2 separate regions of the Homo sapiens genome follow, and region 1 is linked to region 2. Evidence: fine-mapped expression QTL. A gene starts in region 2. The other region holds a variant in brackets. All regions are shown on one strand. Distances are from middle to middle.

Region 1 (17,832 bases), 75 kb after region 2:
TCACCTACCTTGCAGAGGTATTATAAGCACTATATGTACTCATGTATGTATGTGTATGTGTTTGTATGCATAAATATATGGCATCCACACTCAGTGGGCTCTCGGGAAATGTGACCTTGAACTCATAGCCTTGCTGTGAGAAATAAGAAAATGCATGTGATAAGGACTTTATAACTCATACACATCTAAGTTGCCATTATAATTGTTCTGGGGATATCCACCCAGGTCTGCAAAGCCTCACCCTCCTCTGTCTCTGAGGGCTGTGACAAAGGTGCATGCGGGCCAGAGAATAAATGGTAGGAGAGAGTGACCAGGGTTCTTCTCCACAGCAAGAACTTCTGATGGCTAGAATCACAGAGTGGCAAGAAAGCCCCAGCCGACACAGAGGCATCCTTTTGAGCAGCTCCTCGTCTGTGGCGTTCCCACAGCCAGGGCTCTCCAGCTATAGGCAGTCCCTGCATCTGCATGTCCACTCGATGCTGCTGTGGCTGCTGCTCTTGCTGGTAACTAAAGCTGGCCCCATCTGAAGTCCACACAATGTAAATAATGCACAGGCCCTTTCCTGTGCTGGGGCGGGGAGGCCTGGGAGGGGTCCTACCAGCGTCACAGAACTTGGCAACAGAGCATGCCATCAATAAGCTTCTCAGGAAACACAGCTTCCTCTCTTGAACGGGTGTGAAGGGACCCCAAGAGCAAAGGTAGGGGTCAGCCATCTCTGCAGGGGGCTGGTTCTCACCCCTAGGGAATGATATGAGTGCCTTCCTGTCAGGATGAGAAGACCCCATGGCCATGAAGTCAGCGGAGTCCAGAACACGGGACAAACAGCTGCAGGGATGTTTGACACTTACAGTCCTTGTCACAACCCCACCCATCAGGCCCTTGCCTTAACTGTCATCTACAGCATACACATATGATTTAAATGATTTGGCAAAACTTGCCAAGTTTGTTTCTGACTCCTGGGTTTGTTGGGATATTATGTGAAATGCACATATTTTCATAAATTATAAACCAAACATTTTTCTATTTCAATGACTCACATTCTGCTTTTTTGCTGTAGAACACACCCACCTTATTTTTATTTTATTTATTTATTTTTGGGGACAGGGTCTCGCTCTGCTGCCCAGGCTGGAGTGCAGTGGCAGGATCACTGCAGAGGTGGCTTACTACAGCCTTGAACTCCTGGGTTCAAGCAATCCTCCTGCCTCAGCCACCAGAGTAGCTGGGACTATGGGTGCATGCCACTATACCTGGCTAATTTTTTATTTTTATTTTTTGTAGAAACAGAGTTTCACTCTGTTGTCCAGGCTGGTCTTAAACTCTTGGCCTCAAGTGATCCTCTTGCCTTGAGCCTACAAAGTGCTAGGATTACAGGTGTATGAGCCACCACACCCAGTTAGAACATACCCACCTTAAAAAAAAAGTGGGGGTCTGGGGGGAAACTCTGAGGACTCAGAGAAGTATGATTTAGGCAGAGAAGCCACATGGTATGTCTGGTGTCTGATGCAGATAACTGTGCCTTACAAATGGGCATAGGTACCCGGGGGCAGAGCTGTGAGCCTCTAAAAGGACACAGCATCTTTTTTAAGTGACTATTTGTATATCTTCTCTGAAGAAATGTCTATTTAAATCCTTTCCCCATTTTGAAAAATTGGTTATTTATCTTTTTATTGAGTGTAAGCCTTCTTTATATGCTCTAGAAACAAGTTCCTTTTCAGATAAGTGATTTGCAAATATTTCATTCTGTGGGTTGCCTTTCACTTTCTTGACACTGTTTGCAGCACAGAAGTTTTTATTTTGAGGAAGTACTATTTATTTTTAAAATCTTGTCTCTTGTGTTTTTGGTGCCATATCTAAAAAACCCAAAGACATGAAGATTTACTTATATTTTTTCTTTGAAGAGTCTTATAGTGTTCTCTCTGACATTTAGGTCTATGATCCATTATGAGTTAATTTGTGTGTTTTGTGTGAGGTAGGGGTCCAACTTCACTCTTTTGTATGTGGCTATCCAGTTGTCCCAGCACCGTTTGTTAAAATTACAATTTTTTTCCTCTGTAAATCTTACCAAAACCCTTGCATGAGTGGCTTTTTGTCATTTGTTATTTGCACATCTCAAATTATTACTTTATCACAGAGGCCTTTCCTTGACCTCCTACCCAATGCCCCACTCTCATGTCATTCTCTAGATGTGCCCTATTTTATGGTCTTTCTACCAACTTTACTCTTTCAAATCATTCATTTGGTTACTTAAATGTTATTTGTGCTTTGGGAGGCCGAGGTAGAAGGATCACTTGAGGCCAGGAGTTCAAGATTATCTTGGGCAACATAGCAAGACCCTATCTCTACAAAAAAATATTTGAAAACTTAACTAGTCATGGGTAAATGGTGTATCTGGGATTGAAACCCATGTCTCCTGGCTCAAAGCCCATTCTCTGCTGCCATGAGCTTCTGGTGACCCTTATGCCTTCATGAACTGTGCTCACCTAAGAACCCCACCTGGCCTTTGAGTTGAAAACACCCAGCCTGGCCTTTCATTATTCTTTTTGTTTCGAATGCATTATCCCTATCTAGACAATTGGACTTTGGCCCTTCTGGGTTCAAGAATTAAGACTGGTGTTCCTCTGTGTCCCACCTAGAATCCAACACAGGGGCCACTCGGTACAGGGCCTTCTGTAACCCACATCCTGATTTTACCTTCCAGGGAGACTCCTGTGGACCCGCAGTTTGCGCAGCAGCACATCAGAAATATTAGGCATGACATCTAAGCCACTCTTTGACTCTTCTTCCTCAATAGCTGGGGAGAGTTCAGAAGGAAGCCCTGAAAAAAAAGTGCTTACTTATAAAATGTCTCTTTGAAATCACAGTAGTACTGTTGGCAGCTAGCTTCAGGAGCTTTGACATTTATAAGTATCTAGTTCTATGTTAAGGGCTTTTTAATTGTTATCTTACATTATTCTCACAATGAGCTAGAACTTAGTCATCCCATTTCACATGTAGATAAGCCAAGGCTCAGCAAGGTTAAGTCACTTGCTCAAGATTACAGAACTAGCAAATGACATGGCCAGACCTCAAGGTCTACCTGCTTCAAATGTTATGTTCTTCCCTTTGCTTCCCACAGTATTAAGCTGGCAATTGGAAGCTGGTTGGCTCTTTGGCTATAATGTTTGGGAAAAAAACCTGCTCCTTGGCAGGCTTCTCAGGAGACCTGTTGTTCAATTATTCCTCCTCGGATAAATTAAAATGTTCTATATTATGTATCCTACTTAGAAATTAACATCTGATTCCATACCCCATAGATAAGAGATTTTCCAGAGTAAACCTAAGGTTGCTAGATCTTTTACAGATCTCAGAAACATAAATGCCTCCTAGTCAACAGAGACAATGAACAGCTTTTTGTTTTTTAAACTTCTAAAACTATCTTGGGTCTGTGCTTTGAAGACAGAATGAACAAACCAAGTATTCTCTTTTCCATAAATCTTTCTCCTGTTTGAAAACAGCTCCTGTGCCTCTCTAAAGCTTCTCTTCTCCAGACTCTAGCTCCATTTTTCCAACAAGCTCACTGTGCTCCACTGTGGCCCATGGTCTCTAGATACCATCCCATTCCTGCACACATTCTGGTTTGTTGCTGTTACAGAGGCCCAGATGTTCTCTAACAAGATCTTAGCACAGGAAGACTTTGGTAAATGTCCCTGGCATTGATGTTTGTTATTCATGCAGCATAGATTTTGTGTGCCTGACTACGGGCTTACAGTACACTTAGCATTAAGCAAAACTCTCAACCTCTTTAGTTGACCCAAATCAGTTATCCTCATCCTGTATAATGGTTACTTTCCATTTGCATGTAGAACTTCATATTTATCCATGTTTTACTCTTTCTCCTGGATTTTAACCTGGTAGCTTTCCAATCTGCTCAATCATTTTCCAGGATCCTAGGCTAGGCTAGAGACCAGGACTATAGGCATAGTTGTAGCCACCTGAAGAGTTAAGACTGGGAATCATGTGAATAGAAAGAAGTCTCACCAAAGGAGACCATGAAGAGACAAGAGGCTATCTAGTTTGGCTCAAGGTAAAATATGTTTAAATACTTTGAGCTTGCCAGTAAGAGAATGGTAGGCATGGATTCCTTGGTACTCAAGGTAGCCAAGTAAGCTGGAGGATCATCTGTCAGAGATGGGTCAGTCAGCAATTCTTCTTTGGATATGAGATTCAACTAGAAGTTCTCTTAGCTACCTGTTACCTCTCTGGTTCTGTCCTGGTATTTATAGCTCTCTGACAAGGTTTCTGTGGTAAACCTTGTGTCACCCCTGGCATCATTCTACCTTTATGTATGTATCCCTACCACACTCAACAGAGAGTCAACTGAGTAGCAAGCTCCTGAGATATCTATAGGATGATCGAAACATATGAGGTCTAATAATCAAGTGAAATGCATATCAGGGTTTTTGCCTAGAAAAGTTTCCCAAAATGGTGCTTGAAGAGTAATGCCAGAATTGGTGGATTCTAGGAACCAACCACCTTCCTCCTGAATTCAACCAAATTAACAACAAAAAATTTCAGAACAAATAAAAAATACACAAGAAACTCTAAGATACAAGAAAAGGCAATAGTCTTTAAAAATAGTGACTAGAGAAAGAATAAAAATTACTAGGAATAAATGTAGAGCTTCCACCCATGATAACCCTTTCTTCTTCTCCAAAGAATCAGTACTGAAAGGAAGATGGGAGAGAAAAAATTCTTACAAAGAGTTCAATACCACAGAATAGAGAGGGAAAGGGATGGAGGGGGCAAGTAGGCAGTTGTCAGAGGAGATTCAGAAAGTTTCCCTAGAATAGAAGGTTCTCCATTCCATCTTACCAGCATTTCGAAGAGAGAAAAAACTGCCTGGGCTGCCTGCCATTTTGCTTTTCTTACTGATGAGAAGAAGAGAGGAAAGGCAGAATGATCGCACAGAACACAGAGTGGATTTTCTTGAATGATATGAAGGGATTTACAAGGAAGGAAGACTAACGGTAAAGTAAATAAAACACGTCCCTCTGAAGGAGTGAATGGCAGGAGACACATGGAAAGCCCCAACCACCATGTTCTCCCCCGACTCCTGAAAAACAGTGGCTAAACTCCTTGGATTTGCCGTTTTTTCCTTCCTTTCTTAGCAGAGGAGTAGCCGTTGGGAAGCATTGGGTCAAGTCTGGAAAATAAACCTACGGACAGCTTGTCTCTACAATTCCAACCTAAATTGGTGAAACAATCTGAAACCCACTACTAACCACCTCCAAAGGAATAAGATATGCCCCCGATTTGGTATAACAAACTCACGTTTTGGACTATGAACAGAGTTACGGAAAAAGAGAAGAAACCAATTCTACAAACAGCTCTATCTTAACTTCCCCTTTTCCCCACCACCTAAGCAGTAACAAAACAAACACAAAATATACAATCCTCAACTAAAGCACTAAAGGGAAGGCTAAGAGATCCCAGCTAAGGTAGGAAGGAGTCAACAAAAACTAACCTACAATACAATATATCTAGGGAAAGGGAATCAAGGTAGAAATATACAAATCAGAAAAAAATAAAAGGAAAACAGATGGCATGGCAACTATACAAAAATACTATAGACAAAAGAGGAAGGAAGGTAGAAAGGAAGGAAAAGGGAAATGTGCAAGAGACAGATGTCAGGATGGAAACATAGTTGCAAGAAACACATCAAAAAATGCAAAAGTATGCTTCTGTGCAAAATATATACCATAAATACTTTGACTCTAGAAAAAATAACCTGAAAAAAAATTAAGAAATTAGAGTTGGGATGAGAAGATCATGCAAAGATGGAAGATGATTGCTATTTAAGGAAACAAATTAAAGACCAAAATAAAAGGACTAATCAAGAAATTGGGAAATATACAACCAACCAATTTATTGGAAAAATGAAGGAATAAAGCAGATATAGCTTCAAGCTGAATTAGAGGAGGGTGGTAGAGATTGAGTAATCATAACGAATGCAAAGAAGGAAAGAAAGATTGAAGTATATGGAGATAAAATAATGGACCTGGAGTTGAGACTCTGATGACCCATCTATGCATTATGTTGTCTCCGAAGCAGTGAACAAAACAAATGGAACAAAGGACATATTCAAAGATATAACAGAAGAAAAATGTTCCTCACTTGAGGGGAAAGTTGAACCCTTCAGGTTGACAGACCGCATCATGTTAAAAAATATATTTAAATGCTTCATACAAAAAAAAAAAAAAAAACCCAGACATCTACATGGGAAAGTGAAGATTAAGAGGTGCTGGAAATCAGCTGGTCCCAGCTTTCTCCATAACTTTAAATACAGGGGAGCAACATCTACGCAGTTCCAAGGAAAACAGTCAACCAAGAATTTTGTAACCACACAAGCTGTCCTTCAAGAAAAGACAAAATTTTCAAATGTGATAGAACTCAGGGAACACAGCACCTCTGAACTCTTTCAGGAAAATTGTTGGAAAACAAAATCCAGCTAAACAAGACATAAATCGAATAAATTTGGGAAAGGGACCAGTGGTGAACATGAAATCTTTTTACATTTAAGTCTAAGGCTAAATAACTGTGGAAACCATGGTTACAGAATATGGAATGTAAATGTTATAACCTTAATGATGTACAAAGAAGAATTCAAGATGTGTAGAGGTAGAAATGGAAATGTAGGAAGAAATGTGAAGGTGGGAAGATATTCGGCCATTCTCATCTTTTCCTGCAGGAAGTCAGTAGGTACCATTGTAGTGACTACATGTTCTTATCTTCCGTATTCTTGATGTTCTGTCACTTGGTGCCTTAATCCTGGAGTGACAGCCCCTCTCAAGGCTAGCTAATTCCTAGAAACAACTCTCCTTCAAGTGTGTCTTTGAAATACAAACCAGCCAATCCAGAACCCACACCTGTAAACATCACCTTTATCAAATTCTCACGCACCAAGCCAATACTCCCCCTAAATCACCCCAGGGCCAGTACCTGACAACTACGGGCCACCCTATAGCCTAGGTCCTGCCAAAATTATTCAAACTAGCCAACCCTAAACATACTGAGGATACCTACCCTGCCTCTACCTTTCCTTTCCAAGAAAACCCCAGTAAAGGCTTGGGGCCATCTCTCCCCTCACCACTTCTGCCTTCTGACCCACCCTAGCCCTTCCCCAAGGGGCTCTGTATGATGTGCCACACATCCTGCTATTAGGGATCTGTGAGTATAAACCTATTCCTTCATGAGAATCATTTGTGGGTCTCTGTGTCATACCATACCTGATTAAAACAAATGCCAGGTCCAAAGTTTAGATTAAATTTAAAACCTATAATGCAAAAAAACTACCTCATAATTTATAGATTTCATGCCATCCCCATCAAGCTACCAATGACTTTCTTCACAGAATTGGAAAAAATACTTTAAAGTTCATGTGGAACCGAAAAAGAGCCTGCATTGCCAAGACAATCCTAAGCCAAAAGAACAAAGCTGGAGGCATCATGCTGTCTGACTTCAAACTATACTACAAGGCTACAGTAACCAAAACAGCATGGTACTGGTACCAAAACAGAGATATAGACCAATGGAACAGAACAAAGCCCTCAGAAATAATACCACACATCTACAACCATCTGATCTTTGACAAACCTGACAAAAACAAGAAATGGGGAAAGGAGTCCTATTTAATAAATGGTGCTGGGAAAACTGGCTAGCCATATGTAGAAAGCTGAAACTGGATTCCTTCCTTACACCTTATACAAAAATTAATTCAAGATCAATTAAGGACTTCAATGTTAGACCTAAAACCTAAAAACCCTAGAAGAAAACCTAGGCAATACCATTCAGGACATAGGCATGGGCAAGGACTTCATGTCTAAAACACCAAAAGCAATGGCAACAAAAGCCAAAATTGACAAATGGGATCTAATTAAAGAGCTTCTGCACAGCAAAAGAAACTACCATCAGAGTGAACAGGCAACCTACAGAACAGGAGAAAATTTTTGCAATCTACTCATCTGACAAAGGGCTAATATCCAGAATCTACAAAGAACTCAAACAAATTTACAGGAAAAAAACAACCCCATCAAAAAGTGGGCAAAGGATATGAACAGACACTTCTCAAAAGAAGACATTTATGCAGCCAACAGACACATGGAAAAATGCTCATTATCACTGGCCATCAGAGAAATGCAAATCAAAACCACAATGAGATACCATCTCACCCCAGTTAGAATGGCGATCATTAAAAAGTCAGGAAACAACAGGTGCTGGAGAGGATATGGAGAAATAGGAACACTTTTACACTGTTGGTGGGACTATGAACTGGTTCAACCATTGTGGAAGACAGTGTGGCGATTCCTCAAGGATCTAGAAGTAGAAATACCATTTGACCCAGCCATCCCATTACTGGATATATACCCAAAGGATTATAAATCATGCTGTTATAAAGACACATGCACACGTATGTTTATTGCAGCACTATTCACAATAGCAAAGACTTGGAACCAACCCAAATGTCCATCAATGATAGACTGGATTAAGAAAATGTGGCACATATACACCATGGAATACTATGCACCCATAAAAAAGGATGAGTTCATGTCCTTTGTAGGGACATGGATGAAGCTGGAAACCATCATTCTCAGCAAACTATCGCAGGGACAAAAAACCAAACACCGCATGTTCTCACTCATAGGCGGGAATTGAACAATGAGAACACTTGGACACAGGAAGGGGAACATCACACACCGGGGCCTGTGGTGGGGTCCGGGGGATGGGGGAGGGATAGCATTAGCAGATATACCTAATGTAAATGACGAGTTAATGGGTGCAGCACACCAACATGGCACATGTATACATATGTAACAAACTTGCACGTTGTGCACATGTACCTTAGAACTTAAAGTATAATAATAAAAAAAAGTATATTACTAAGTGAAAAAAGCAAGGTTTGGAACACCTTGTATAATATACTACGATTTATGTTTAAAAAATCCACTTTTGGCTGGGCGCGGTGGCTCTCGCCTGTAATCTCAGCCCTTTGGGAGGCCGAGGCGGGCGGATCACGAGGTCAGGACATCGAGACCATCCTGGCTAACGTGGTGAAACCCTAGCTCTACTAAAAATACAAAAAATTAGCCCGGCGTGGTGGCGAGCGCCTGTAGTCCCGGCCGAGGAAGGAGAGCGGCGTGAATCCGGGAGGTGGAGCTTGCAGTGAGCTGAGATGGCACCACTGCACTCCAGCCTGGGTGACAGTGAGACTCCATCT[CA/C]AAAAAAAAAAAAAAGAAAAATCCACTTTTACATATATGTCTATATTTAGAAATGCTTGGAATATATCTAGAAGTTACACTAAAACATAGTGACAGTGGTTGCCTCTGCTACTGGGGGACAGAGATGTAATGAGACTTACTTTTTCCTATGTCTCATTTTGTACTTTTTGAATTTTGTACTATGGACATGATTATTTATAAAAATTGAATTAAAACTCATACCAAAGCAAAAACAAAAAACAAAAAACAAAAAACAAAAAACTACCTCAGTAACTCCAAACCCTTTATGCATTTCATAATACATTTTTTATACTTTTAGAAACCAATTTCTCTTCTTTGGAGGAAGCAGTTACCAAAATTCAGCAAGTCTTATAGTTTCACTTCAAGTTCAATTAAATTCTAATAGTTTTAATTTCAAACAAGTATATCTAGTATAATCTCCCTCTTTTTCCCTTCCTCCTTCTGTATTAGTGGGGAAGGAGGTGTTTAGTGTAAGCTATTTTTACTTTCTTCCTTGTATTTTTCACTATTGGTTGAATTTTTAGATATGAACATAAGCCACTTTCAACAAAAAGTAATAAATTTATTTTCAAATATATCTCCCAGGACTAGCTCATTCCAATGAAAATATTTGTTTCTGACCATGTCAGGGACTTGGAAAAATTACTTTTGGAGCTCTGAAAGATGCTCTGAGTCCCAGGATGGTTCCTAAAAGTCAAAGCTGCTAGTTGGGGATAAACTTTTTTTTACCTCTTTCTTCTCAGGGAGGCCTCTTTCCTGCCCAAGACCTGAGGCTCTGAGTCTAGACTGGGGGTTTTGGAAGGACTGTCCATTCGATGTACTTCTCTGCCTCAGCCTACGTGTCCCTCAAAATCCAGGTCCAGATAGCCAACTACCTTCTAGACGTTGCCACCTGGTTAAGGAGAATAAAAATCATTTCAAGAGCCACCATTTACTGAACATCAACTATGCAGTAGATACACTTTGTCATTTCTTACAATAGTACTGCAAATAAAAAATAGCTTAAACACCTCCTTCCCCACAAATACAGAAGGAGCAAGGGAAAAAGAGGGAGATTATACTAGATATACTTTTTTGAAATTAAAAGTATTAGAGTTTAATTGAACTTGAAGTGAAGTGAAACTGTAGGACCTGCTGAATTTTGGTAATTGCTTCCTCCAAAGAAGAGAAATTGGTTTCTGAAAGTACAAAGAATGTATTATGAAATGCATTTTCTGGAGAAACTGAAGCTCAGCTGAGTTAAAGTGATTTACTAGGGTCCAGCTTATCAGCAGTACAGCCAGAATGCAAAACCAGGTTTGTCTGTTGCATTCAAGCTGCTTTCCGTGGGCATTTGACATGTCCAAACTCAAATTCACTGTCTTCCTTCTCAAGCAAACTCCTCCTCCTGTCTCACAATTCATCACCCTCACAACCATGCAGACAGGTGCCTGGTGGTATTCCTGGTCTGCCTCTCAACTCCATCTCCTCATCAAGTCCTGACAAGCTGATCTCCAATAGCTGTCAAACTATCCTGTCCACATTTACTACCACCTCATTACCTCTCACCAGGCTATTTCCCTATCCTTTTACCTGGTGTCTCCCTGTCTCTAGCCTCTGCTGTTTCAGGCCAGCTCTCACAATCTGTCCAGAAGAATTATTCTAAAATATAGATTTGATCCTGATGCTTCCTTACCTGCAGGCTTCTCTTTCCAAAGTGTCCTAAATGAAATTCAAACTCATTAATTGGCCTTCAAAGCCTTCAATTTCCTTGGTCTCAGCCCACTGTTCCCACCTTGTTGCCCATCTCTCTGGGACGTGTAGCTCACACTTAGTTCACATGACATTCCTTCTGTTCCTGAAGTATGCCAAGCACTAGAAGATGCCTACATGCTTTTGCTTCTGCTGTCCCCCTGCTTGGGATGACTTTCTCTTCCCCAGCTCAAGGTGGCTCCTCCTGAAAACCTTCCCTGACTCAACCCCACTGAGCTAGCTGCTTCTTCCTCTTTGTTCCCAGGTACTTTATGGCCTGTTAAAGTTTTATCACAATTTATCGTAGTGACTTTGTCTATTCTTATGTTTCCTCTCCTAGACAGTGAGCTTATTCGTTCATACATTTGTTTAATGTTTATTGAGTGTTTACTATGTCCCTGGCAATGAGCTGGGAGCTAAGGATACAATGCTAAGCAAAACTGACATGCCACATCCTCTGGAGCTCATTATTCAGGGGAACAGAGATTAATCAGAGAAACATCCAAACAATTTCACACTGAGAGATTTTACAAAGGAGAAGGGATCCGAAGGTACCAGCAAACCCTTCCCAAGAAAAGTGACATGAGCAGATATCTAAAGATTGAGTTGGGAGTTCATTAGGCAAAGAGGGAGAGAGGAAGAACATTCCATGCAGAAGACAGAATGTGCCATGCGTAAGAAGAGGAAAGAATGAGCTGCCGAAGGCAGGCCAAAATATTGTGAGTGAGAGTGAGTGTGGCCCTAGAATATGCTGGGGAAGTGGGTGGGGTTAACTATTCAGGGCCTTGTAGGTTCTACTGAGGATTCAAGTGCTCTTCCTAAGAGCAGAATGAAGCCTCTGAAGATGCTGAAACAGATTTGCCTTCTAGAGATCCCTGCGGCTGCTGTGTTGGCCATGGTGTGAGCTGGGTTGGGGGTTGGGAGTGCAGGGAGAGGGGACCAGGTTGCAGGCTGTTGAGTTAGCCAAGGGGACTGATAATGGTAGCTGGGACAAGGCCTTCTCCCTGATGGTGGGGCCTGAACCCTTTTCACTTAATGCATCCCCAGCACACAGCCTAAGAACTGGCCCACAGTCAGTCTCACATATTTGGCTTGAAATAACCTGCAACTGATCAAAGATCAAAACAGCATACAATATAGTTCCTGAGAAGGGAACTGATTGGGTTGTTGGAAAGACTAGATGCAGCACAGAAATGAGCCTCCCAGTCCTCACAAACTGAAGGAGAGCCAAAATTCTTCAGACTCCAGAATGTTCTGATAAGTATCTTTTCCCATTTCTCAAAGGAACAGCCAACAACCATCATAAGAGACTGGATTTTTCCCCATGAGTTCATATGCAGGGCTGTATTTAGTGCCTATAAATACAATCTGAGCCAGCTCTCATAAAATGCTCCCAAAGCCTTTTATCCTGGGTATGGGAGGGGACGGGGCTCTTTGATGGGGCTTTCAGAATATAAGAAAAGAAAGTCACAAGTCTGCAAGTATTCATTAAACACGGAGGGTTGCCCACCACATCTCTAGCACTGTGGAGCACAGTGTACAAGAATATCCCATTTGGTTGGCAAGATAGAGTTCTACAACCTAAATGACAGAAATGAAAATGTATGCCAGGTTCCTGCTGGAATAAAGACCAGTATCACATGCAAACATTACAGCAGCTTAGTGAAGTAGGTACTGTTATTAACCTCCTTTAAAAGATGAACAAACTGAAGCGTGGAGAGAATTAGAACCTTGACCAAGGCTATGCAGCTGGTAAGTGATGAAGTCTGAGCTCTTAAGCATCCAGACCCTAGAACTGAGAGAAAATGAGAGGGAGTGTATATTGTTGGACACTGACCATGGTTAATTTTATTTTTAAAATTTGGTGCTTATAGGAGTCACATTCATTTGCCTGATAATTTTACTTCTAAGATCCATCTTATGCCCTATTAATATTGGATAATAAAGTTTTGCTGTAGGTAGTGGATGTCTAAATTGGTATAATTTTGTAAGCTAATCTGGCAGTGTGCACATATACATTTAAAAGTAAATACTTTTAACCAATCAATTGCAAGTCTAGAATAGTAGCCCATGGAAAAAACAGATTTCTATAAAGATCTATGTAAGATAGTATTCATTATAACAGTGTTTTTAATAGAGAAAAAAAGTGGAAATATTATTACAACTGGGGAGAAGTAGTATTTTTATAATGATTGAAATAATAGAAGACTTCTCAAAGGGAAAGATAGGCAAACATGATTATGTAAAATCTTTACAATTCCTCTAAAATAACACAAAACGTATTAAAAAGCAAAAAAAAGATTGAATGAAAATATATTAAAATACAGCCCCCCCCAAAAGAAAGAAAGCCAATTAAGGGCTAATATCTATAATGTATCAAGTTTACATATATTACCAACAAAAACCAAACAAATCAACGAAAAACCCCAGACCTAAATGGGTACACGGGCAAAGATGTAAGAAGTTAAGTCACCCAGTAAGAAAACAAAGTGACTATTTTAACATTTTAAGTTTGAGCTTCCTAGCAAATTAATTGAAATAATAATGAAATTTCACACTAATAATAATAAACTTAAAACAATGACAATTATTGATTATTCTTACTATATTCTGAATAATAAGGAGCAGAAGCAAACACCAGCACGGGTAATGCGTAAGAGAAAGATGTCCATTCAGTCTTTGTCAGTAGCGTTATTCATTGTAAGTAATTTGGGAAATGCAAATGTTTCTACTCTTTAACCTTGTGATTCTCAAGTCTGAACACTTATCTCAAGGGAATGATTTAAAGGAAGAAAAAAGAACAACTAACGGTCCATAATTGTTTATACTAGCATTGTTAATCCTAGTTCAAAGAACAATAGATAGGTCAATACAAGAGGAACTATGCACCCATTAAATCATAACTGAGGAGAAATTGCTGAGTATAAAATAACAAGTAAAAAAAAGAAGCTGTATCTATTCATCAAATCAACTGAAAACATTATAAATATGGGCAAATATTGCAAAGAAGAAAAATTGTTAGTTTTTCAGAATTGATGGGGTTGTGGGTGAAATTTTAAAGTGTTTTTTCCAGTGTTTTAAATATGCTTTAGTAAATTTAAAATTATAATTAGAGAAGTATATGCTGCATTTTCAAAAGATCTCTTTAAAGATGGTTATTTAAAATATTTTGCCCTTGGGAAAAAACACTGTTTGAAATTTTACTTCTGGGAACCTTCTTATTAATGCTGAATAAATAGGTAGGTGTAAGTTACTACAGTTCAGACCAGGGGCTTCCACCATTGTTAGTGACATCCTGGACACATTCACCCAAGAATCCATAGGGCTCTTATGCTGAGACTGGCCCCCAGCAGCTTGAAGCGGGGCAAGGATTTTCAAATGGTGCTCTGTGAAGCCTGGGTCCCTGGAGGTACCTTGGGCCCACAGTCTCAGAAGATGAAGGATCCAAGCCCTTCTATCCCCTTCAACCAGAGCAGCCCCATTTGCATCTCCCCAACACGCTGGCCTCCTACAGATCAGCTTGTCTGAAATGTTGTGCAGCTTAAAAAAAGTTTTAAAACTGTTCATGAGATGGCCAAACCATGAGATTTGGAGTCAGGAGATCCTCGGGCCTCAGTTTCCTCAACTATAAGAGCAAGAATCCCTGCCCCTCTTAGCTGACTGGGAAGATTACATAAAATCAGAGGTAACAAAATGGTTTATACTGTGGAAAATGCTATGGGAAGTTTATTAATTAAGATTGAATTAAAAGGACTAGGTGACACGGATGAACCTTGAAGATGTTTTACTAATTGAAATGAGCTCGACACAAAAGGACAGATACTGTATGATTCCATTTCTAGGAGGGATCTAGAAGAGTCAAATACATAGAGACAGAAAGTAGAAGGTGATCACCAGGGGCTGGGGAGGGAGGGAATAAAGAGTTATTGTTTTAATGAGTATGGCATTTCAGTTTGCAATGATGAAAACGTTCTAGAAATGGATAGTGGTGATGGCTTCATAATATGAATGTACTTACTGCCACTGAACTGTATACTTAAAAATGGCTAAAATGGCAAGTTGAATGTTATATATATTTACAATAAAAAATAGTCCCCCACCCCCTCTGAAAAAGGGAGTACTATATAGAGTAAAATACAAAAGAAAGTCAAGAAAGTAGAAGATTGCAGAGCTGGTGGGACTAACCCACTGCTTTAAGGAACAGGTACCATATGACTCAGAGAGGAGGGAGATAGCCCAGCAGGAGGGAGATGCCGCGGGGACAGAGGCACAGAGGCTAGAGGGTGAGTGGCCACAGAGAAGAGGCTCTGGGAAGAGGGAAGAGCCAGGAGCCTGGCCTGTTGGAAACACTCATCTCTCTCCACTCACCCATGCCTCTTTGCCCACCTCATGGCACTATGGTTACAGTTACAAATTATTTTCATGTACCTATCTCAATGCTCCTGCCACATCTTTTTAAAAATGTTTCTTTTGAGACAGGATCTCACTCTGTACCCCAGAGCGAGACCCTAGAGTACAGTGGCACGATCACAGTTCACTGCAGCCTTGACCTCCCAGGCTCAAGCGATCCTCCCACCTCAGCCTCCCGGGTAGCTGGGACTACAGGTGTGTGTCACCATGCCCAGGTAATTTTTGTATTTTTTGTAGAGATGGGGCTTCGTCATGCTGCCCAGACTGGTCTCAAAGTCCTCAGCTCAAGCAAGCCACCTCCCTCCCAAAGTGCTGGGATTACAGGTTCACCTAGCCCCCTGCCACATCTCATACAATTTCATTCGTTCATTCAACAAATACCTATGCAGGCCCTAGTAGTGCCAGGCATTGTTGTAAGCAGTGGACACACACACACACACACACACACACTCCTGCCCTTGGGGGCTTCTTCTCTAGGGATAATAGCTGACACCTAGATAACACCTGTCATGTACCAGGTATTGTTTTAGGTACTTTATAGATATTAGCTGCTTTAATCTCCATAATCACCTAAGAAGGCAGGTACTGTTCTTAGCCTGGTTTTACATGCCCAGGGAGGTTGAATAGCTTGCCCAGGTCACCTGAGTGGTAGCAGGGCTTACAGTTCCAACTCGTGGTGGGGCTCGACATACTCATGCAGGAGAATGGGGCCGAGGAAGGGTGTTGGGGGCACTGGGAGCAGGGCTGGACTTGCCCAGCTAGATCTAGAGGGGTCAGAACCCTACTGAGAACATCGGCAGAGGTGAGTGCAGAGAGGGAGGCAGTGCGGGGGCTGAAGCCTCATTTTCAGAACCATTTTCCCCGCCATGGTTCTGGCAGAAGGTGGACAGGGAACCAGAGGCTTGGAGGAAGGGGCCTGCAGCTACCCAGCAGGGCAGGGCTGGGGTATGGACTTTGTGGTGACAGCAGATTAGTAAGCAAGAGATGGCCGTGATGCCTTGAAAAGAGGAACTCTTCAGTTTGGGCAGCTTCCTGGGTGTACGAGGAAAAGGAAGTGTCAAAAGTTCAGGCCTGAGGCACCCTTCCAGGCCCACTAGATGCCAGCATGGCTTAGGGAGGGCTGACAGCGAGGCCTGGGGGCTGGTTGGAAGGAGGCAGGTTTGGAGGTGCTGAGCGGGCAGAAGACACAATCGGATTCATTCATTCACCAGCAAATGTTTCCTGAGGAAGACACAGGAAGTCTTGTGTTTACACATTCACCTTCCTTGATCTGGCACAGACAAATCAGCACTCGCTGAGACAGCATCTGCCCCAACCCCACCTACCTTTTTCCTGCTCAGCTGCTTCACTAAGGTCTGGAAGCTTGAGCCCCACTAAGTTCTGATTTCTCATCAGGATGTGCTCCTTTGTGGTAAAAGAAAGAGATAACAATTTCAGATGATGACACTGGGCTGGGCTGTTCTCTTGGCTCTGTCTATGGTTCTGCGACCACTATCTTAGGTGGGAAAGCGGGGCAGCCTGAGAGGTGGGTGGGCAGGCATGGCATGGTGAGGCCTGAGAAGCACCAGGAAATAGTTCCTCTCCCAGTCCGTGAAGGTGCCTGAAACGCCACTGTCAGCACCACTTTCCATGGGTCAGGGACTACCCTTGGCATGGTCTTTTTAAACAAGTCTGTGGGCTTCAGGGTAAATGAACTGCTTGGCCTCACTGTGGCTGAGGTTTGCAAAGGACACACAGGGGCAGAACTAAGGGCTCTGGGACAGGAGGGTCCCCTGGGTGTGTATGGCGCTGCTCCTGGAAACAGCTTTGGCGATCTCATGGCTGGCTGGATCTTCCTGCCCTGTCATTCCGGGCAGTGACTGCTCACTTCCAGGAGCTGCGATTGCCCCACACACTCAGGTCATCAATGGCCTTTTATGGCACCTCTTGAGTTTTTAAACTCTCCAGAAAAGTGAGGCCTGAGAATTGCTGGCTTAGGGCCTCAGCTGGCAGAGCCCGGGGAGAGATGGGATGTGGCCCAAGTGGGCTCACACCTGCTCTAAGCCAATTAGCACCAGACCAAGGACCTGAGTGGAGGCACCTGGCAGAGCTCCTTGCCCCTGTGACTTATGGATCTTCAGTCTGCTGTGTGGCAGAGGGCACTTGGGAATGGTTTGTCCCCCGAGAAGGGAGGAAAGGAAGGGGCCAGCAGAGGGTGCTCATGATCCAAGTGGAAGTCATGGTCAAGGACCCTTTACCCATTTGGTTAGCAAGCCAGAGGCCCACAGCCCATCAGCTTCAGCACACTGGAGTCGGGTAGGGGCTGGGCACTCAGGTGCCAGGGTAGTGGTTAGTGACATGGGGCCTCCAGGTTCCCTGTAACTTCTCTGGGTGGGCGAAATCTGCAGGAGTGTAGGGAGTGAGGAGGCTCTGATAA
Region 2 (15,743 bases):
CGGAGTGGGTTCATATATCTTACCTTAAACTATTAATAGTGACTACAGTACTGTAAGTTTATATACTAAGTGGTCCTGAACTGCTAGTCGATTTCATTCAGCCTTTTTAGGGTTTAAGGAGAGGTAATATGGGATAACAGGAAAACTGAGATTCAGAGAGGTGGACATGCCATTAATACCTGCGTAATCAACTTGGCCCTCAGTTAAAAGGTCCAATCCTTAGCAGAGGGCCTTGCACATACTATGTGCTTAGTGAATGTTAGCTAAGTTGAAGAGACTAAACAGAGAACCTTTAAGATCTCATTTAAGAGGTGACTCCACAGGTTCTAATTATACTCCCAGGGGTTAGAAGATATACATAAATAAAGGTAGATGTGGATGTTGCTAGAGGCAGATTTAAAAGAAAGATATGACATCTGCCCAATTGTCACCAAGGGAGAAAATAAATAGCAAAAAAGTCATATTTTAAAAGCACAGTGGTCTGGGGGCATTCAGGAACAAAGAGCCCTATATATTTTCATAGCTTCTACATAGATCAATACCAAAATTGATAAATAAATTAACAAATAGAAGACTAAGTTGTATTAGGTGTACTCTTTAAGAAGGCAGAGAAATTTATATTTCATTTTAGAAATTTAGTCAAAGAGTTAAGTAGAAATTTAAAGGTGTTAATTAATTAGAAAATATGAATAAATGAAATATATTATTTCTCAGTGATGAAAATAAGCTATTACTACATATGTATTCCTCTAGCAAAATGATGACACAGTAAAAAAAAGTATATATATATATGCATGTGTGTGTCTATATACACACACACATGAATGAATTGCTTCATGTACAGAAACCTTCTCAGTGTTACCTTTGACTATCCTAGGAGTCTTTCTCTAGAGTGGCTAATTCTCATATTCCATTTTGTTATGCACCCCTTTAGTGCTTTCAAACAAGAGTCTATTGGTATAAAATTGAGATGCTGGGATGTACTACTGTATCCTAGAATTGCTTCAATATGCCTGTGCTGTGTTCCAAGTTCCATTTTAAGTTCTTTCCATATCTTCTGTCCCCATTACATACTTTTAAAAAGCTACATAGAAAGTCAACTTATAATAGATACTCAATAAGTATTTGTTAATGCTAACTGAAAACATTAAGTCTTACCAATCAACACCTCTGGTTATATCTTACACAGCCATGACATATGGGGCATACATACAACAAGGGGAAAAACGAAAAACAAAAAGAGCAAGCCTTACACATCATTAAGCTCAGCTACTCTCCCAAGAAATTCTTCATAAGTTAAGGAGCCACTCTCTCGAACCAACGTAACATGTTTTGCTACTTTTTCTGGTAACTTGTTAATAACCAACTGTGTCTGATCCGAAATTTGCTGTCCCATGATGAAAAGATGTCTTTCAAAATCCAGAGTGTTGCTTCACATAGTTTCTGTCAAATATACAGAAAAGTTACTTTTACATATTATACAAAAACGGCAATATACTCATTCTTCAAAAACATAAAGAAAAACTAGGGATACCTTTAAGTGAGAGTTGAGTAGACCTACATGAGTCTAAGGTAGAATTTAAATGACTCTGTTTTCAGATTCACATAGCTAAATGAGAAAACAGGATTCACTTATATATTATTGGGAGGGTGATGAACCTCTAATTCTTATAATTTTACCAAGTCAAAAACCACTAAAGCACATGTGCATGTGTACACACACACACACACACACACACACGCATTCAAGTAATTGTATTTAAGAGGAAGTTTGTCTACCTTCTATAATTTTCCTAAGAACATTTCCTGACTGCTTACCACATGTCAGGCTCCAAACTGTTTTCCGTATATTATGTCAATTACTTCTTACAACAATCCTAAGAGGTAGACAATATTACACCCCTACCTATTTCCCATAGACAGGGAAACTGAGCTAGGTGATTTATCTAAAGTTACACAGCTGTAAGTGGTGAAAGTGAACTCTGAATTTGTTTTTCAGATTCTAGTACTTACATTCTTATCCACTATGACATACTGGCTCACAATATATTTACATCAGCTAAATAATTTTTTGTTGAATTACTTTATTTATAGATGTGTACCTTAGTTTTAATTTTTAAAAATATATAAAAAGACTTGTGGCTTGAAAAACCTAAGAAAATTAAAATGTTAGATATTTTAACCACCTCACATTTTCTGCCTGGAAAAAGATAGCTCTTTTGTTCATTAACTCTTTTAGGTACCCCCAAAATATATATCTAATTATCAAGTTTTTAAATGCCCCCAAAATCAGATGCCCCCCCAAGAAATTCTATTTTATTTATCCATCAAAGACTATCATTTTATTTCATCCAAATTAACAACCATATCACATAAAGCAGGTGAAACAGTAATACTCTTATAGAAAAAGTTTTGGTAGGAAGATTGCTTTATCATTAATCAAAAAATAAAGCTATAAATTTAAAATATATATAACTTTATGAAGTTAGTAACCCCAAAATATGTAAAATTTCCTTTAGGTATTAAAATTTAATGTACTGTATTTGAAGTTAATTCCTTTAGTTACCTAAAATAGGAAAAGGACAATTGTAATTTAAAAAAAAAACAAAAAACAACAGTTTTGAATCTGAGCCTACTTGGTAATAATAAATATCACATTATAGAGATAAATGAAAGGAAGTTGTTGAGGAAGATCCAGGCCAAAAAAAAAAAAAAAAATCCCTGAAGTCAAATTATATGTAAATATAGCCAAGTGGATTTACAGCAACTGTATCCAAGAAGAAACAATTAAAGATCTTAGCTTAGAAGAGGTCTCTAGGGCAGTCAACAACAGTGATTGCTGAATTTCAAAGACTAGTAAAATCTCAAAGCACCATGGTGTTGGATACTTCTTTTAATTCTAAGCAAGGACAGTTTCCAAAAATAAACAAAAATTCCCCAAAACTTAACAAAAATCTCAAAAAGAACTTATAACCTGAAAAGTAGGATATAATATTAGAAAAAAAGTCTTTCCCAAGAAGGGCAGTAACTTCACAATGAGGTATACCACATATTTACCAGGTATACTACACATTGTCCTTATTTTTCTTGATCGAATCCAAACTTATGAAAACATCATCAGAAGCCAAGGGTTGCAGACTGGTATTAGGGAGCCACTGTGTTACAGGACTTTTTTAAAATTAAATTCAACAAGTAGCACGTGCCTGGTGCTTATGTTCTGGAGATAAAACAGTGAACAAAAGAAACATGGTTCTTGCCACTGTGGAGCATCCAATACAGTGGAGAAGAGACAGTAACCACACAAATAAATGTATAATTACAAAATGAGAAGTGCTAGGTGAACAAGTACAGGTGCTGTGAAAGCCTATAAAAGGGGGACTTGACCTAGTTTTGTATCAGGGAAGAAGTCCCTGGGCAAACAACATTTTACTTGAGGTCAGAATGGTCAGAGTTAGGGATTAAAAAAAAAGTAGGGAAATGGCAAAAGGAGGACACTCCAGGCAGAGGTTATGAAAAGTGCCTGAGACAGGAAGCAGCACGGTGACTTTGAGGTAATTTTTAAAAAGGCCACAAGGACTAAAGCAGAGAGGCAAAGGGAGAGGGAAACTGGCACCAAGAGTTGGGCTGTTTAACATTTTTGTTGATGACCTGAAGACTGTATGCCTGCCCAATCTGCGGATGACCAAAACTGGAATAAATGAATATTATCTAGTGAATAATAGGATCAAGACTAAAACAGACACTTACATGCTATTTAATATGACTAAAAGTTATATCCTGAAGAGCCAACTGCACAAAAACACATATGTAAGATGTGCTCAAAAGCAGTTAAAATACAGAAGGTCTGGGTTTTTGTTTTTGTGTTTTTTAAAGAGATGGAGTCTCTTTAAACAAACAGAGTTTGTTGCCCAGTCTGGTAACAAACTCCTGGGCTCAAGCAATCCTCCCGCCTCGGCCTCCCAGGCCGAGGATTACAGGCATGAGCTGCCGCACCCGGCCAAGTCTGGGGTTTTTAATCAAAATAAGTCAACAGTATAACGGGGGCAACAAGTATGCTAAAATAATCCTAAACTCTTGCTAGAAGCAGGTATCTTGAGCAAGCAGCCTACTAGTCCATTATGCTTTGCAATGGTTAGGCCACACTGAAAAGTCTGTATTCAGCTCTAAGCAGTTGGCTTTAAAGGATACTAATAAATTAGAACATATTCATGGGCATAGAAAAAAAAAGAGGTTTATTCTAGATAGTCATAGTTTGGTAACAATGAAGCAATATAAGTTTGTTTAAATATCTGAGGAGCTGTCATGTGGAAAAACAAGATTCATTTACAGAGAATGGGATGGCCACTAAGTATAGTAAGTATAAATTAGAAAGGCAGATTTCAGTTGATGATAAGCATGTCGCACCATCCAGAAGTGGAAATGGCTGCTACATGTGAGCTCCCTCTCATTGGAAGTATGGAAGTGTTTAGGTAAAGATTAGAAGTACATCTAATAAGTGTTACAGGGATTTTTACCTGGGTGGGAAGTGGAGTAGGTGACCTTTAACCTAACATTTTATTCCCAAAATGAAACTGAACCTTCCTCTAACATTCCTGTACCAATTTAATGAAAATGTAATTAAGATTCTAGTCAACCAGGCTGAAAACTTTGAATAATATCTACATTACTTAACAAAGAAAAAAACTGAACTTTTGAAATATATAGTCTCAATATTTAATATAAATACCTATGATAATTTAACCAACGTGGTATAGGGGAGATAGAATTTCTCTCCCTCTGCTCTCTGAGGTCTCCAGCTGGGCCCAAGAATTAAACTAACCTAAGACAGATTAACAGGAGAAAAACACACAAATTTTATTTAGTAATTTTTATACATACACAGGAGCCCTCAAGAAAAATAAGGACTAAAAAAAGTAATTAAGGCCAAAAGCTTACATAGTAGATTGGACAAAGGAGAAGTAAACTGTGAAAACATGACAAGACACAAGGGTTTGGGCTGGGCCAGTTAATCACAGAAAAGTGACTAGGAAGATAAGGGTTACTTTAAGAAGGCTTCTTTGAACACATTTCTCTCAGCTTTGATTGCCCACTTCTAGTAATGATAATGTCTTCCTCCTGGCATAGAGAGGACATCTTTCACATGGCTGTTTTATCTCCAGCCTTCAGGAAGAATTAGGAGGGTCAGTGGGCACTTCTTACATCTGCTGCTTTTCAATGTGCTTTTAACTCAAAATAATCCTTATGCCAAAGTGGCGTATTTTGCTACCCTACATTACCCACCAAAACCATATTTCAAAAGAAGAGTTAGTTGCTTATTTATTGAGTTATTAATAGAAAATGATCCCCTTTGTTTCAGCATTGTTTTCATCTGCTGCCCTAACTTTGAGTAAAGTTTATAATTTGAGGCAGCATATTAACTTGTTATCTTGTAACTGTACTTGGTATCTGGGAAACTTCATCACTAACTCCTTGCATTAAAATGCAACAGTATCTAGAGACTACCTGAGAGAGCCTGCAGAAGTGGTTTTCAACCTGGTTCCAGAAAGAGGGCTTGACATTTAGTTTATTTTGAAAACCATAAAATATTGATAAATATTAACATCTATCACTATATGGGTGTGAAAATAAGATATGACTCTGTGATCTGCATACAATATAAAACCACAACACAGAGTGCATGTTCACGAAAACAATCTGTTGAGGCCATCCTCTAGTCAACCACCACAGCTTTTCAGTGTCCCTCTTTGGTGACTGCACATATTTCTATCATACTATGACATTCGTTAAGTCACTTGGCCATTTCCCTCTAGTGAGCTTCTTGAGGACAGCAGCTATGGTCTGTCTTCTGGCAGATACACAAGCACTCAATAGATGTTTACTGAATAAATGCAGTAAATACCATTGGCAGTTTTTGTTTTATTATTATTCACTTAGTATTCTTTTGACTTTTGTTAATTTGGTCAGTCATCTATTAGTACTAGGTTGGAGAGAAGCAGAAGTTAAAAATATGTATGAAAGAAAATGTAAAACTGTGAAAATCTGTCATTAAATTAATGCTTATGTAAACTGGGAAACATTTACTATTTGATTTTAACAAGATACTCCCCCCTAGGCCATGCAACAGTGGTATTGCATAGAAACATAATTTGCAAACCACTGGCACAGAATTCAACAAAAGATGAATTTCTGGTCAAGATTTCTCAAAGAACTAGCAGCTCTCATATTATTGTGCCACCTATAACACAGTCATTTTTTGCAAGATAAAAATATGCTTTCAAAAAGCATTTGAAGGATTTTCTAAATAAAGAACTGTTATTTTGAAATGCACAAGATCAAGGATTCCAAAAATGCCACATTCTCTAGTGGGTGGTACATAGTGAATCACTTATTTTTCTAACAAATGAATTGTGGAAGTTCAAATATTCCTTATAAAAATATTAAAATTACATCATGGGTAACTGGCAAAGCAAAAACGAAAAAACTGCTCAAAAACTCCTAAAAATTTAAACCATAATTCATTCATAAAATAACTAAAGCAAAATGGAAAAGGCTGAAAATGCACCAAAATGACTAAATGACAAGTACTGCACTGTAGTATTTTAAAAACCTCTCTGAAACCAGTTCTCCATCAAATTTTGTATCAACCTCACCTAAAAGGATTTAATTGAAATAAACATCAATGATTTTCACTGTCAAGTCAACTTTAACATCAGTAATAAATACCAAGTACTACTGACTGGGTCCCTAAGGATATTATTTACTTTATTACTCATTGTTTACTCAAACTGTAGATCTGTAAACAGATATCAACTTTTTTTTTTCAAGACAAGTTAATATAGATACATAGTGAAATAATTAGGCCAGAGTCACTATAGAGTCCAGAATGCCTGTTCCAGAATCAAAGATCTTGATCAGAAAAAGATACATACATATATATTAGAGAGAGAAGGAGAGAGAAACTACAAAAGGATAGAGTGCCGTACTAGGAGATTAAGAATATGGATTTCTCACAGTAACAGTGTGTTTACTAAATGCATTTCATATTGGAAAAAGCATATTAGACTTGTAAGAATTCTCTCTGGACCTCCCTTGCCTTTTTGGGAAGGAAAGCGTGTTTGTATTTAGATGGGAACCAAGAAGGATCAGGCTACACACATCGAATATAAAGTTCATTTACACCAAATGACAAATATTAATTTTTGAAACATATAGTCATATTCTTGAGAAAAAGTTCTAGAAACTGAAGTCAGGCAATGTGAAAGAAAAGGATAAAAATCCATACTATTTTTGAGCTCTGAATTCAGAAAGCATCACTTCTCAGACGGGTGACTTCGACATGGAGGTGACTAATTTAGGATCGTCGGCCGGTGGCAGCTCATGCCCCCAGACAAAATTCTGAATGGGTAGAGGTCATTTTATAGCAAGAAGAATGGGCAGAAGGGAGTGAAAACGAATAAATTCGTGCTGAAGATGTAAGAATTATAAACAATTGAAAGTGTTCCAGCAGCTTTATATATATGCCAGAGGCAAGAACTGAATTAGCTGGCACCGCTAAATAGGACAGTGTCAGAATATAAAAGGTACACTACCTTTAATAAGGGGCATAGGGATCGATTTCAATAACAATCGTAAATCCACATTTTGTAACGCCGAGACAAATAACTGAAGGAATAATTTCAAAAGCTAACACAGAAGCCTTCTGCTCCTGCTGTGTAATCACTACCTTCTTATTATTAGCAAGAAAACGTTCTTTTCTTAGCCGGGTCTCAAGGTAGCAGCTAGTTTGACAAGGAAAGACCTTTGGGAAGGGTAGCAGCCTAAGCCAATTCATAAGTGTGGGGCTGGCTAAGTAGATCGACGTGGCTATTTCTGAGCTATCGTCCCAGGCAAAAGGTTTCTTATTTGGGTGTCCAGCCCGGCGGAGACCGAGCCCGCGGGCCACCCTAGCGCTCGCTCTGGCTACGCCGCCTCAGCCCCTCCTCAAGCGCACCTGGACATTTAACCAACAGCTAAGTCCGGCGGCCGAATGACTGAGCCGGCGGCAATATTCAAACAACCGTTTTGGGATAGAGAAGGAAAAACTCTCTCCGGGTCCCTCAGAACCACCCCGAGGCGGGACAAGCCACCGCCACCCCGGGCAACTGGAACCCGCCGGGCAGAAGACGGGCGTCAATAGAATGGCCTCCCCAGCCGTCCCCACGCCCCAATCCGAGGCCCGGGGAGGGCGGCGGGGCTAGGCCTGTCTCCCCGCGGAAGCCTGGCTCGGCAGCGGAGGGCCCTCTGGGGTTTCTCTTCCCAGACCCAGAGTCCTGGAGCAGCTAGCAAGGGAAACACGAAAGGACAGCGCCGCGGAGCTCACCCCAGGTTCAAGGCATCGCGCACCCTGCGGCAGCGGCTGCGCTGCCTCAGCCCACAGCTCAGACCTGCGGGTGGCCGCGACTCAGGCCGGGACCCGGTCGCACCTCTGTGACGCAAAGCCCCGCCCCCCGCGCGTTGCCGGGAGACGGCGCCCAACCTTCCTCTGCAGCGCCCCTACCGACCCGCGCTCCGCAGCTCCTGAGGGCTTTCGAGCCCAGATGGTCATCTGAGACGAGAGGTGGCGGCGAAGGAGAGTCTCGCCTGTCACGCTCCCGGAGCAGGGGCTTCATGAGGTGGCCATGGAAACAGCCTGGCAGACTCCCATCTCTCCTGGTGCCATCTCCGGAGCGGAAAGTGGAGCGCCCCGCTGGCGACCAAGGCCGCACTGAGAGCCCTGGTTTGGTCAACAGTTGGGCTCCAAGGTACCACTTCCCAGACCTCCAGCCTCCCCACTGATGATAGATACACAAAGGTCATCTTGTTTCTTTATGAGGCAATGGATTGTGTTCACCTAGCCGAGTTGTTAAGCATAAGAGAATGTATGAAAAGTAATTACAAGGTTCAAAATCCTGAGCTTTGATAAATGATAGATATGATGATGAGCACATGTTAGTGATATTACTGCTCTGCGGGACGTCTGAATCAGTAATTGCTGTCTTTTAAGCATCTGTTGTGTGCCAAATACTGCACTAGGCACTTTACGGGCATTGCTCTTGTTTAAGTCGTCTGGTCAAAGTTGCCTAGACAATAAACAGCAGAGCAAGGATTTTAACCCAGGTACAGCTGACACTGCTGCCTCTATGCTTAGCAGTTAAACTGGTTTTTATGTTTCTTGTTTGTACACCCCTCCTTCACCAGTCACTTGTAGATTCACCTTGTGAAGAGCTAATTCTTCCCTCTAATAATAATACTCTTTGACCATTTACTATATGTCAAACCGTATTTTAAGGACTTTAAAGGTATTAATTCGTTTAATCTTCACAGCAATCCTGTGAGTAGGTATTATTAATACCTTCACTAAGACACAGGCTTAGAAAAGTCGATTAACTTTTCCAAGGTCAAACAACCATTAAGGAGCAGAGCCAGATTCAAACCCAAGCAGACAGAACCCTGAACCTGTGTTTTTAATTCCTGTTTTAAACTGCCTCGGTAGTACGGTAAGACTTCATTAGCGCTAGGTCCATGCCTGTTTGTGCACCATTATTTCCCTGACAGCCAGCATGGTACTTGTTCAATATTTGAACATTTGATGAATATTTGAACACTGGAAAAGGAAAAAGCTTAAAAATGAAGTATAAATAATGATTTAATAAATTCCAAAAGATATCAAATTCAACAAGATTCCATAGTTCAGCCTAATCCGGGCCTGGGAGTTAGAAATATTACTCTGTAAAAATTGCCTTCAATTAAACATTGTATTGGAAGTTCTGGTCAATGAAATAAAAAAAGACAAATATATAAAAGGCATCCAAGTTGGAAAGGAAGTTGTAGCACTGCATTTATTTGCATAAGAAAATTGTGGAATACTACAAAAAAGCTGCTAGAACTCATAAGTGAGTTTACAAAAGTTGCAAGATACAAAATCAAATATACAAAAATCAGTTGTATTTCTATATACTAGCAATGAACAATTAGAAATGGAAAATTTTTAAATATCTCTTATCAGCAAAAAAAAAAAAAAAAAAAAAAGCAGCAAATTTGGGACAAATTTGACCAAAGATGAGAAAGACATGTATACTGAAAACTATAAAATATTATGGAATAGCAAAGACATGGAATCAACCCAGGTGCTTATCAATAGTGGATTGGATAAAGAAAGTGTGGTACATATACGCCATGGAATACTATACAACCACAAAAAGGACTAGATCATATCTTTTGCAGCAACATGAATACAGCTGGAGGCCATTGTCCTAAGCAAAATAATGCAGAAACAGGAAACCAAATACCGCATGTTCTCACTTATAAGTAGGAGCTAAACGTTGAGTACACAGACACAAAGTTGGGAACAATAAACACTGGGGATTCCAAAAGGGTAGAAAAAACTACTATTGGGTACTATGTTCACCACTTGGGTGACCTGGATCATTAGAAGCCTAAACCTCAGCATTGTTCGATATACCCATGTAACAAAACTACACGTGTACCCCCTGAATCTAAAATAAAATAAAAAACATTGTTAAGAGAAATTAAAGAAGACCTAAATAAATAGAGATACATTATGTTCATGAATCAGAAGACTGAGCATTTTTAAGATATCACTTCTGCCTAAATTGACCTACAGATTTAAGGAAATTCCAATAAAAATTCTAGCAGATTTCTTTTTGATGGAAATGACCAAACTAATTCTAAAATTTATATGGAGATGCAAAGGACCTAGGATAGTCAAGACTTTCATCAAAAAAAACAAAGTTTTGGGACTTACACTACCTGATCTCAAGACATTATAATAAGAGCTACTCAACACAGTATAGTATAGGTATGAAAATAGATAGAGTAATGGAACAGTATATAGAACCCAGAGATGTATCTATACATATGTCATCAATTGATTTTCGACAAATATGCCAAGGCAATTCAGTGGGGGAAAAGATAATCTTTTCAACAAATAAACCTGAAAAAATTGAATAGCATATGCCAAAAAACTCTTAATATCTTGCTCCTTTCCTCATACTGTCACAGGATCCTTGGAGTGTTGCTCTGCCAGCCAGAAACCTCTGTGGCCGGTGGCTCCTTTGCCCGAGTTTTGCTCAGGCCCACTGGGCTCATTCTGCCCATTTGGCCTTGCAGGCTGCACTCGGCTCATGCCACTGGCCCAGATCCCATGCCTGCCAAGGACGAGCCAGGCGCAAAGTGGTGAGGGGTGCGTGAGCAAGTGAGCGCGAGGTCTGGCCGCTGTGCACAGCTAGGCACGCCAGCTGTGGCGGGGCGGGTGGCTCCAGGTGCTGGCATGGGCGCTGGCTCCTGCAAAGCTGTGGCTGGACCAGGAGTACCACAAGCGGCTTCCACTGCTGGCACTAGGGAATGTGGTGGCACCTGGAAGCTTTGAGATGCCAGGAAATGCAGAGCCCCCAAGAGGGTGTTACAGTCCTGGCTCAGGGAGCTCTTAGGTCTGGGCTTCTCGAAGTGTCAAAGCTCTTCTCTCCTTCTCTCTTCTGTCCTTCTCATCGCTTGCAACATGGGGAGTGAGGGGGTGTTTCAGCCCTGTTTGTGTTACAGTTCTTTCAGTCCTGCCATTTGGCAGGTCCCAAGTTGTTGTCCCACATCCAGGAATAATGAGGTATGCAGACAATTGGAGGGTGAGTAGGGTGAAGAGGTGCTTTATTGAGTGACAGTATAGCTCTCAGGAGACTCTAAGTGGGTAGCTCCTTTCTGCAGGCAGGTTGTCCGGTTGTCTGCCCAGCTCTCAGCTGAGAGGAGACCCACAGTGGGTGGCTCCTTTCTGCAGGCAGGTCGTCAGGATGTCTGCTGAGCCCTCAGCAGAGAGGAGATCTGGAGTGGGTAGCTCCTACACGCAGGCAGGTTGTCCCCATGTTTCTTGAGTCTGGCTGAGCCTAGGATATTTATGGGCTCAAGAGGGAGGAAGTGCATGCTGATTGGTCCATGGGCAGTAGAAAAAGTGCCATAAGTTCTCACTCCAGTCTGAGGACCTGGCAGCCCAGCCCCCAGGCTTCAGACTCTCAGTTGCCTAAAGGTAGGGTTTCACTGAGGACCCACCCCTTTTTGCCCAGGAGCCAGTCTGCCTCATGCCACTGTCCATGGCACCAAGGCTGTTTGTGCCAGCGGGAGCCTGCAGGCCCACACTGAGCTGCCCTCAGCGCCCCCTCAGCTTCCCCTCCCATGCTCATCAGTGTCCAAAGTCCAGAGGGGGCTGAGGTGGCAGGGGGCTGGCATGTCAGTGTTGCCCCAAGCATGCACACACCTGCCAGATTGTGACAGCGTCTGGGCTTGGCCACAACTTTGCTCTGCCCCAGAAGCAGGGAGAGGCCAGACAGCAGGAGCAGGCACTTTCAAGCCTGTGGGGGCAAGGGGCTTCCTGGGCCCCTGAGAGCACAAGGATGCCCAGGTCCACAGCTGTGGTTGGGCAGCTGCAGCTGTGCCCAGGAGGGTGGGGCTCCCACCCCACCAACTCAGAAGCAGGTGGGGCTCCAGCCTGTTCCTGTTTTCATGGTTCTGTGGAGTGTGCAGCCCTGGCCAGGCCTCCCTCACTGCAGCTTGCATCTTTGCAGCAGCTGCTCCAGACGGGCTGCCACTGCCATCAATACTATATGTAAAAATTAACTAAAAATGGATCATACATCTAAATGTAAGAGCTAAAATCACAAAACTTCTAGAAGATATCTTAGTGACCTTGGATTTCTCAAAGACTTCTTAAAGATGGCACAAAAAGCACAAACTATAAATGAAAAAAAAAAAAAAGGATGAATTGTACTTCATCAAAATTAAATACTTCTGCTTTTTAAAAGACTCTGTTAAGAAAATAAAAAGGTAAGCCACAAACTTGGAGAAAGTATTTGCGAAACATATATTTGGCAAAAGACTTCTAACTAGAATACATAAATAACTCTTACAACCCAATAAGAAGACAACCCAACTTTTTAAAATGGGCAAAATATTTGAACAGACATTTCACCAAAGATTTATAAATGACAAAATAAGTGCATGAATTAATACCATTAATCATTAGGGAAATGCAAATCAGGAAAATAATAAGGTTTCACTGTGCACTGTAGCTACTAGAATGGCTAAAATTTGAAAGACAGATCATATCACATGTTGACAAGGATGTGGAACAACAGAAATTCTTGTATACTGCATGTTGGAAATGTAAAATAATACAACAATTTGGAAAAGAGTTTGGCTATTTCTTAAAAAGCTAAATATACACCTACCACATGATCTAACCATTTTACTCCTAGGTATTTACCCAAGAGCAATGAAGGCATATGCCTACACAGAGGCTTATACATGAATATACATAGCTTTAACTGTAATAGGCCCAAACTGGAAACAACCAAATGTCCATGAGTAGGTGAATGGAAAATAAATTGTGGCATATCCACAAAATGGAATATTACTAAGCAATAAGAAGGAATGGTTGATTGGTATACCTCAACAACATGGATGAGTCTCAAAATAACTATTTTGAGTGAAAGAAGCCAGATCCTCCCCCGCAATAAAAGAGTACCTGTGGTGTGACGCCATTCATATACAATTCTAGGCAATCCAAACTAATGTATAGTGACAAAATGCAGATCAGTGGTTGCCTGGGAATGCGGGAGCAGTGTTGTGGAGATGGGTGGGAGGGTAGTACCACAAAGGAGTGGGAGGAAACTTTTTGGAGTGATGGATATGTTCATCTTCTTGATTTTAAATGATGGTTTCACAGATGCATATGTTGAAACTTCTCAACTCGTACATTTTAATCATGCACAGTTTATTGTATGCCAATTATACCTCAATAAACTTGTTTAAAAAAGACATAGCTAGTTGAATTTTAAAGGGTTTTGTATTGTGGCCTAAACAGTCATGAAAAGTGCTCTGCACAAATTGCCTTCAACTTTGTAAAATAGAGCCATTACTCCTTCTTATATCTCATGGGGAGTATAGTGAGGATTGACAAGGAAAAGACTAAAAGACTAAAATATTTAAAATCAGTATTAAATTAATATTATTAATGACATCTCTAGATACCTTCTCATCACAACAGCTTTCTTCTTCTTACCTTTGCATGAGCATAATGAATTAATTAGAATGTAAAACAGAACAAGACAGTAATAAAGATTATCTTAAAAAACAAAATAGAAGAGATTAGAAATCCTCTGTGGAATAGGAATTTTGAAGCTACTTTGCAGCAGAATAAGGAAAACTTTATTTTTCTTACATATAAAAAAGTATAAGAAAAATATTTGTAGGAAACCACATATATAAATAGTAAAAGTTATGGAAGAAGAAACCTCTAAGTTTTTTATAAGAAGAAGGATCATTTTGCCATGAGTCTTGTAATTTGTAATGTATGTTCAGATTTTCATAGTTTTTTAAATAAGTATTTTCCAGTTAAAGAAAACACAGAGGCTTTGATAAATTCTAGTAAACATGGTCCTGTAGTCAAGATCAGGAAAATTGGAGACTTTTGGAATGGTATATTTTTTCTTCCATTTATTTATTTATTTATTTATTTATTTATGAGGTGGAGTCTTGCTCTGTTGCCAGGCTAGAGTGCAGTGGCACAATCTCGGCTCACTGCAACCTCCGCCTCCCAGGTTCAAGAGATTCTCGTGCCTCAGCCTCTCGAGTATCTGGGAATACAGGTGTGCGCCACCATGCCCAGCTAATTTTTGTATTTTTAGTAGAGATGGGGTTTCACTATGTTGGCCAGGATGATCTCGATCTCCTGACCTCGTGATCTGCCCGCCTCGGCCTCCCAAAGTGCTGGGATTACAGGTGTGATCCACTGAGCCCAGCCTGGTATATTTTTTTCTAGGAAAGTATGTCCAATGTCTCCTGCTTTTTTGTAAGGTCACTAAGCATCTGTGTTAGGACTGTGGGAATATATGAGGAAGACCCTGAGTGGCTATGGATTGTAAACATTTTTAACTTTCCGTATGTAATTCATAAAATCATAAAGTTGAAAAAAGACTGCCTAACAATCGCCTGGTCCAATATTCTTCTTTTAGAGGTGAGGAAGCTGAGACCCAAAGATGGAAAGTGATTCATCTAAGGGGTACAGAGCAAGTTAATTAAACTGGGTTAGAATCCAGATTTCCTGGCCACTAGTCCAGTGCTTTTCCTAACAATACACTACTGCTTTTAATTCTGTCAGTGTAGAATAAGAGGAACACCTAGTCACCTAAAATTAAGACGAAAGCTTCATCATTTTCTAGGACTTTGAGGCTTTTCTATCTCATTGATTTCTTCTTTCTGGCTGCTTCTACTCAAACTTTGTTCTCAGCCTTCTGCTCTTATTTTTTAAATGTTTGGGGCCGGGGGGCGGTGGTGCTCATGCACTCACAGCTTTAATTTTCACCAGTGTTGAGATGGTTTCCAAATCTACATTGCCAATTGTTATCTTTCATTGGTGTTCTAATCCGGTATTTCCATATTTACACATAATATCTCTCATAGGAATGAATGTACCACAGCAAGGGTGCCTTGATTTCCATACTAAAGTGGCTTCAGAATTCCAGCGTATCTGTGCTGGTGTCAGTCAATAGCAACCGCAATAGTTCTTGGCAGAGATGGCAGAGCCTAGAGAATTCTGTGGTTGCTGGAGGAAAAGGCAGCAGTCTCCAGTGGACAAGACATCATGTAGAGAAGTAGCACTGTTACTTGGTAGATGCCACCTAGGATATTACCAGGGAATCAGCAGTAGAGTCTGGCAGAGT

Evidence for each region. PIP is the estimated chance that this variant, and not a neighbour inherited with it, causes the effect.
Region 1: its variant is fine-mapped to the expression of RNF141 in lymphoblastoid cells (TwinsUK, PIP 0.95).

The regions. Positions count from the first base shown.
Region 1 is chr11:10,607,037-10,624,868 of GRCh38, forward strand. IRAG1 (inositol 1,4,5-triphosphate receptor associated 1) reads right to left here. Exons shown (of 21, transcript NM_130385.4): 10 at 16,742-16,820; 11 at 2,692-2,815. Among named protein-coding and RNA genes, the nearest start is that of LYVE1, 47 kb to the left of the region's middle. RefSeq lists a silencer at 10,482-10,682 and an enhancer at 16,419-16,548. The variant CA/C (reference allele first, on the strand shown) is at 9,254.
Region 2 is chr11:10,532,763-10,548,505 of GRCh38, forward strand. It overlaps RNF141 (ring finger protein 141), which reads right to left and starts at 8,425. Exons shown (of 6, transcript NM_016422.4): 1 at 8,360-8,425; 2 at 1,254-1,443. The coding sequence starts at 1,396. It overlaps IRAG1-AS1 (IRAG1 antisense RNA 1), which reads left to right and starts at 8,474. Exons shown (of 4, transcript NR_046375.1): 1 at 8,474-8,780. RefSeq lists an enhancer at 8,501-8,610.